Linked DNA regions of Homo sapiens. The protein of the gene in region 2 interacts with the protein of the main gene of each other region in a pairwise test. Each region holds a gene or a part of one and is shown on either strand. Other genes may lie near its edges.

What was found.
Region 1: the proteins of ARHGEF9 (region 2) and GPHN interact in a two-hybrid assay, tested with the Homo sapiens proteins (one study listed by BioGRID).

The regions. Positions count from the first base shown.
Region 1 is NC_000014.9:66,916,827-66,920,753, reverse strand, and holds part of GPHN (gephyrin), read right to left. Parts: intron 1-3,927. UniProt on the Homo sapiens protein: Microtubule-associated protein involved in membrane protein-cytoskeleton interactions. It is thought to anchor the inhibitory glycine receptor (GLYR) to subsynaptic microtubules.
Region 2 is NC_000023.11:63,652,461-63,656,387, forward strand, and holds part of ARHGEF9 (rho guanine nucleotide exchange factor 9), read right to left. Parts: intron 3,278-3,927; coding exon 3,034-3,277; intron 1-3,033. UniProt on the Homo sapiens protein: Acts as a guanine nucleotide exchange factor (GEF) for CDC42. Promotes formation of GPHN clusters.

The DNA.
Region 1 (3,927 bases), on a different chromosome or scaffold from region 2:
GGGAAAGAGTGTGGGGGGTGAGGGGTAAGACAACAAATATGGTGCAGTGTATACCTCTCGGTGAAGGGTGCACCAGGATCTCACAAATCACCACTAAAGAACTTACTCATGTAAGCAAATACCACCTGTACCCCAATAACTTATGGAAAAATAAAAAAAAATAAGACTGAGGACAGGCATGGATGGTCAGAATCAGATTCATTCTCTAAAAAAAAAAAAAGCATGCACTGCATTTTAAAAAAAGTAAAATTTCTATATACAACTTGGTAGTTGAAAGATGCATTATGAGAAAGACAGGAAAGATAGGAAAGAAGCCCAAGAGTTTGAGGCTGCAGTGAGCTATGATTGTGTAACTGCATTCCAGCCAGGGTGACACAGTGAGACTCTGTCTCTAAAAATAAATAAATAAATACATTCTAAAAACTTGTATACTACCCTCTTTTCCATCCCCTCCTCCCCAAGAGAAAACTTACATACTCACATACACACATTTAATTCTTGCGTTATTTCTACAACTCTTAAATGATTTATGCAAAAATCCTGAAGAAACTAGGAGCCCTTCATCCCTTGTTCCCAACCTCCTGAGTCAAGACCATTTCTTGATGTGATTCATGCCAAACACTTAAGACACTGCTGTATCTTGGATGGGTCAAATCTAGTTAACCATTTTTTTTTGTTTGTTTGTTTTGAGACGGAGTCTCATTCTGTCGCCCAGGCTGGAGTGCAATGGCGCCATCTTGTCTCACTGCAACCTCCGCCTCCTGGGTTCAAGCAATTCTCTGCCTCAGCGTCCTGAGTAGCTGGGATTACAGGTGCCTGCCACCACGCCTGGCTAGTTTTTTTTTATTTTTAGTAGAGATGGGGTTTCACCATGTTGGCCAGGCTGGTCTTGAACTCCTGACCTTGTGATCGGCCCACCTCGGCCTCCCAAAGTGCTGGGATTACAGACCTGAGCCCCAACGCCTGGCCAAATCTACTTAATCTTTAATCCAAAAGTAGAGAGAAGCAACTGGGGGCCTTCCATGCAGAAAGTGGGCTCAGGAGGCTAAGTAAAAGAATATGAATATTTATATCCAAGGCACTCAGGAACTTTTACACAGATGCAAGAAACTTATGTCAAAGTGGCCACAAGATTGTTTAATAGGAGACAGACAAATGAAACTCTGTGTTTACTGCTAGACACCAAACCTTTGTGTGAAATCTTGAATTTATGGGGAGGGAGAGTAGCCTGTACCTGTCTGTTATTTTCCTAATCCCAACCCCTCATTCTTGAACTGCAGGAGATTGAGCCCGTTTGGGCTTCGGTGACCCCACCACTGGGGTATGTTTATTTGATGGTTGATTTTGCTGTATTCTCTACTTCTTTTCCCATCTTCTAATCATTTTTTTAACACACATGCTGACTCTTTTCCTATCCCTTCTCCTTTTCTTGGGAAAATACAATGAATAAAGATTTATTGGTACTGAAGTTGTTTAAAAAAAGGCAGGAAAGAGGTTTCATATTTTTAGTTAGAGCAGGGCAGTAGAACTAACAACCGAGGTGAGAACCAGATTATTTTGTCCAGAGAGCTAAAGTTCTAACTACCATCATAAAGTATAGCTAGGTAACATTGTACAGCAAGCAAAATATAAAATAAGCTTGCAAAGAGCACTGCATAAAGTTAATATAATCTGCTGCTGAGGTGCTCACTATTATCTATAACGTATTACCAAAAGAGAATAGGTAAGAACCTAAAAATCAGAATATAAGGCCAGCTATAGCTGCAGAAGAGGTGGAGGTCTTTCTCTTTCACATTTGAAGTAATAGCTTAAAATCTAAGATGTAAAAAAAAAAATCTTAAAAATTTTTGGAGGGTTACATAATATCGGGAAAGATGTTTAATCTTTCGACCTATCTTTGTATGGCTCAATCAGTTTACTCTTTAAAGATTGTGTGGTAAAGAATTTAACCTTGACCGAGGAGAGGTCTGGTCTTTACACTCAGCTTCTGGGAGTGATCTCTAGGTCCTTGGAATTTCACGCCTAATAGGAATGTCTTTGTTGTCCATGGACTTTGGGCACCAGAGACAGTCTAACAATGTTAGACTGCAGTTCAGGAATGAGGGAAAGGGATCAGGAAAAGAACAGACAGGTATAGGCTACCCTCCCTCTCTCCCCATTAATTCAAGATTTCACACAAAGCTTTCGTGTCTAGCAGTAAACATGGACTTTCATTCATCTGTCTATTAAATAATCTTGTGGCCACTTTGACATAAGTTTTTTTGCACCTGCATAAAAGTTCCTAAGTGACTTGGATATATACTCATACTCCCTTTCTTGGCCTTCTGACCCCACTTTCTACATAGAAGGCCCCCAATTGCTTCTCTCTACTTTAGGATTAAAGATTACAGGTCAGCCACACTGGCAGTAAGTGTTTGAGTCCCAATAAAAGCTCTGGATACCAAAGGCTCAGGTGAGCATCCCCAGCTGGCATTACTCCATGTGTGGTATCACAGATTGACGCCAGAAGGGTGACATGTCCATGTCTCCAAAGAGAGAGGACAACAGAAGTTCCTCATTTGTTACTTCTGTTAGACTCTGCCCTATGCACTTTCTCCCTTGGCTGACTTTAATCCGTATTCTTTCCTTGCAATGAACAATAATCATGAGTATAACAGCTTTCTGTGAGTTCCATGAATGCTAGTAAATTATTAAACCTGAAGGTCATTTTAGGATCTCCTGAATTTGCAATTAGGGTCAGAAATGAGCAATTTTGTGGAGTACTCCACATTTGTAGGTGGCTATTTTTTGCAGTTGGCTAAAACTCCTTACAGTTGGTGTCAAAAATAAGATTTTCTAGAAAGACCCTGACTCACTGAAATACATGGCTTAGGAAGTGAAGAGAGGGTGTGGGATGATGAACCTTTGATCCCTGAGTGAAGACAGTGTCAACCACAGCATGGAATTGCTTCTTTACTGTGATTAGTTAATGGAGATAATTCCCAAAAAGTTATCTCACTGGATGCATAAGGAGATGCAAAATATAAAGAAAGAAGTTAAACACACAATCTCTTGGTTATTGTTATCTATGCTAGCTAAAATGAAGGTAAGGGATACAATCCTACTCTAAATGAATAGGAATAGACTGTGCAGGAGGAACTTGCTAAACTAGTATTACCAACGGCAATCTGAATCAGCACAGTGGCCAAACCTTACAACTCTTTAAAAGGTGAAAAAGTTTGGGTATAAATAGAGAGAAGGAAGAATGGTAGCTGAGGGTAAAGGAATGAATGGATAGGTTATGCAGTAAGGGAAATAATACTGCATTGGTATCTCCAAAGAGGTTCAGAACAAGAGATGACATTGTTTCTTAGCTCAACTGTAACAGATGCTTGAAAGAGTGAAGTCATATGTTGCTGAGACCACTCTTATTTTTGGAATCCAACAAGCCTGCAAACCTGAGTAGCATCATTCTGGGAGACATTCTGGTCTGTTAATGTCTGAGAAGGACTCTAAGAACGTGCCAGTATCTTTTGACTTTTATTTTTTAGGTTATGGCTAAGTGTATTGGGAAATTCAGTTAAAGCCTCCTCAGGATATAATGTTAATAGAAAATGACTGGCCTGAGGAAGAAATGCACTTAGGTAACCATCAGCTAATTTCTATGATATATAGTTCTGTACAAACATATCAATAGTGGTAGATTAAAGGTGAGAAATTAGTAACTTAATACAAAATTATGAAAATGTATGTAATGGCTTTAGTGGATGGATTAGCTATTTCTCTAAATATATCCACACCCTACACTGCCTTGGCCAAATCTTAGGCATATTCACACTGATACTACTGCTGTGTCTGTCACATAAATACCATAGTAAATATAGATGCCCAGACAAACATGACTGTGTTGCTATACAATAAAAAAAGCCTTGGCCAAAGGCCAGGGGG
Region 2 (3,927 bases):
GGAGGATGTACATAGGTTATATGTAAATACTATATCATTTTATATAAGGGATTTGAGCATCCATGGATTTTGATATGCACGGGAGTCCTGGAACCAATATCCCGTGCATACCAAGAGATGACTGTGGTTATTACATAATATTATGGAATGTTATACAGCTGTTTATAAGAAAAGTGTGATGAATTTATTGATGTGCCCATTCGACTAGACTGTAGTCCTCACTAATGTAGGTGTTGCCATGAAGGTATTTTACAGATATAATCAAAGCCCCTGATACGGTTTGGCTCTGTGTCCCCACCCAAATCTCATGTGGAATGGTAATCCCCATGTGTTGGGGGAGGGGCCTAGTGGGAGGTGATTGGATCATGGGGGGAATTTCTCCCATGCTGTTCTCATGATAGTGGGTGAGTTCTCACGAGATCTGATGGTTTAAAAGTATGTGGCACTTCCCTCTTGCTCTCTCTCTCTCCTGCCACTATGTGAAGAAGATGCTTGCTTCCCCTTTGCCTTCTACTATGATTCTAAATTTCCTGAGGCCTCCCAGTGATGCTTCCTGTTAAGCCTGCAGAACTGTGAGTCAATTAAACCTCTTTTCTTCATAAATTACCCAGTCTCAGGTATTTATAGCACTGTGAACATGGGCTAATACAGGCCCTAATCAGTTGACTTTATATAAGGGACAATATCCTAGATAATCTGGATGGACCTGACTGAATCTGTTGCAAGACCTTAAAAGTAGAGCCTAGGTCTCACACAGAAAGGGCAGAAATTCTACCTGTGCACCACAGCTTTAGCCCATGTCTGTGCCACTTCATCCTTCTCATGAGCTTCTCTTCCTGACTGCCTGTAGATGACAGCTTTGGCCTATGTCCATGGGTTTGAGCCTGCCTGTGATCCTCCATTTCTGACTGCCTGCTCTATGGAATTCTGAGCCACTTAGTCAACATTCACAATCACATAAGCCAATTCCTTGTAATGCAATTTTCAGCAGTGGTATGATATATCTCCTACAGGTTATGCCTCTTTGGTTGAACCCTAACTGATACAAGGGGTTATAGTTAGATTCTATATTATTTATCTGGGGAGTTACTTATGATAAATTAAGTTTAAAAAAGCAACCTACAAGGTAATATATATAATATAATTTTTGTAAATATAAAAGTATTATGTTTGTATATGTTTATATGGACATGAGATAAGTATGGAAAGATGCATACTGCACTGTTAACACTGGTTATTTCATTCAGTATGGAAGTGACAGAGAAGGGGAAGGAATGCTAAGTTTTCTTTATATATTTCCATATTTGTTTAAATGGTTATAATGGTCATGCATTAATTTTATAATTAAAAAGTAAAAGTTTAAAAAAGCTATGATAAAACTATATGACCCTCATAAAATAATGATTAAAAATATGAAGTGATCTGATAGAAATGCTAATGATATAATGATGAGTGAAAATGAGGATACAAAATTATATCTATCCACTATAGAGAGGCAGGTATGGGGAGAGAAAGAAAAAAGATTCAGTCACCTTGATTTTTCTAATTAGACACATAAAAAAGGCTGGAAATATATATCAAAATGTTTATGAAAGTTATTACTGAGTATGTTCATGTGTTTTTTTTTTTTCTTGTACTTTTCTGTTGCTTTTTCCCTAAATTTCCTACAATGGAAGTGATTTACTGTTATTATCAAACCAAAAAAAAAAAACCTCAACATTTTTAAAGATGAACATATGCCTGTTCAGAAAGTAATTTCTAGAAGCTTTTCTATTAGAAGCAGATAAAGTCACAGGTTTATTAGGGCATTGTGTGGGAGACATTGTGTTAGAGCCAATGGGAATGGCAGGGGCCTTCTAATTGATTCAGGGTCTGAACACTAAGACCATTCCTTTAATAACTCTAACAGCCTAGGCAAGGTCAGTGGCTGCTGCTGCTTGCTATTGAGAGAAGTAGCCAGCAACATTTATATGCCACTCCACATCATGTCCCAATGGAGTGTCCACATACTGAAAGCAGTCTGATTCCAATGAGACTCAAAGTGAGTTATTAATTTGCACTCTACCCAAGTTCTGAGGAGAAGACTGGAGTTAGATTTGTCTTTCTGACCATCCTTTCTTACCTCTGGATAATTTCAATCGCCCACATGGAAGGATAAGAGAACCCTTTTGCACCAGGATTCAATGAGTAGGCCCATTTTTCTAGAGACAATTTCCATAAACTTGAGCTTTCAGGCCTTCTAAAGTACAATTTCACTCCCATAAGCAATAGGGCAAAGACAGAAACTGTATGTCTTCTCAGGGAATTAACAAGTCTGGTTGCTTGGTATTTTTTATGACAGAAAGGCAGGACCATGAGCAAGAGACCAGACAGTACTTTATAAGTCACAAAGCTATAGCCAATGGCGTCTAAATCCCACAGTTGGGAAGCAACATGAAAAATATCTCTACTATCTATATCCCCACTGGAAAAGAGAAACAACTTATTGTAAGGCAAAAAAGTATGTTTCAGTGTGATTTGAAATCATGAAAATGGTCATGGTTTTAAGTCCTGTTATATTTTCTATAATTTACTTTAAATACTTCCACACAGAAAGTGTGAAGTGTATGTGCATATTATTTGAATCTACAGTCTAGGGGGATTTAGTTAACATCTGAAGTATCCTAATCAGGAGTACAAACTATATACCTAATGACAGAGAGCTCAGGCTTTATGAAGATTACAGAACAGGTTGTATAACTGATTTTTGTTTATTTGCTAATAAATGTATGTTTGGGAGAATCAAGCCTGAGGCTGGCTTTCAGTGTGATATTCTTAGCTAGTAGGGGAGGACAACCTATAGTTCAAACCTACCACTGACTAATGGAAGCTATTGGTACTTACCAAAAAGAACCTAATAATAAGGAACCACCAAAGTAGCTTAAGTCAGTTTGCAACAGAAATCTTCCCTCTGACTCCAAGAAAATGGAAACCAATTCAAACCTCCTATGTTCTTCATAGCCATGTTCTTCTTTCTACTCTCAGGTCACTTACCAATTTTTTCATCTTCCTGTACCATTTTCCTCTCTTCTCTGAAAGCCCTGAGCCAGCGTATTTTTTCCTCCAGCTTCTTGGCAAAGAACAGATGTATCTCCTCAGTCTCCTTGTTGTGAAGCTTAAAGGCATTCTTCATGCTGACATTGAAGTCATCATCTCTGCCATCCTCAATGTCAACTACCTCATATTTATCCATGTCAATGCGGCCTTTGTAGTACAGGATGTCTCTCCGGATTAGGTCCTAGATGGGAAGGAAGAGGTTTCTTGAAGGTATGTGCACGGCGAGTACTAGAAGAGTTGGCACAGGGGCACAGCAGAATGCTAACACTGTCACCGTTTTGAAGTACCAATGGGGGTTGGTTTGTTCTAAATTTGGCCAGGTTATACTAGTAGTCTGACACTGACAGGTTGGTTAACTAGATGCCCAAAGAAAAAGCCTCTGTCTCACCTCGAAAGATCATTTCAGACACCAGAATCAATCCTTGGACGTGTGTGCAAGTCTGCTGATGGGAGGTAGGAAACAGTAAGCCACATAAACACGGCTAGCAAGGGCTTCTCCTTTTCGAAAACATCAGCAAGCCCACTAGAGGTATGAAATGAGCTGGCTGGTTGCCTGGAGTGTGTTCAAATATCTGTGCAGGCCAGTGAGACCTGAACATCAGAGGGGGACTGAGTAGTAAGAGTAGCTAGGAGGCCACAGACTGCTGGCAAAGGATTACCTAGGGGGGGTCTAACACTTAGCACTCTGGGGATTTTTAGAAAAGGCCCAGTCTGCCAAGAGAAATGGAGGTAAAATTAAATAAAGAAGTTCACATATCAACACAGATGAATGTCACAAATCTTATGGAGAAAAACAGAAGTTGTAGATGGATACAAACAGTATGTCGCCTA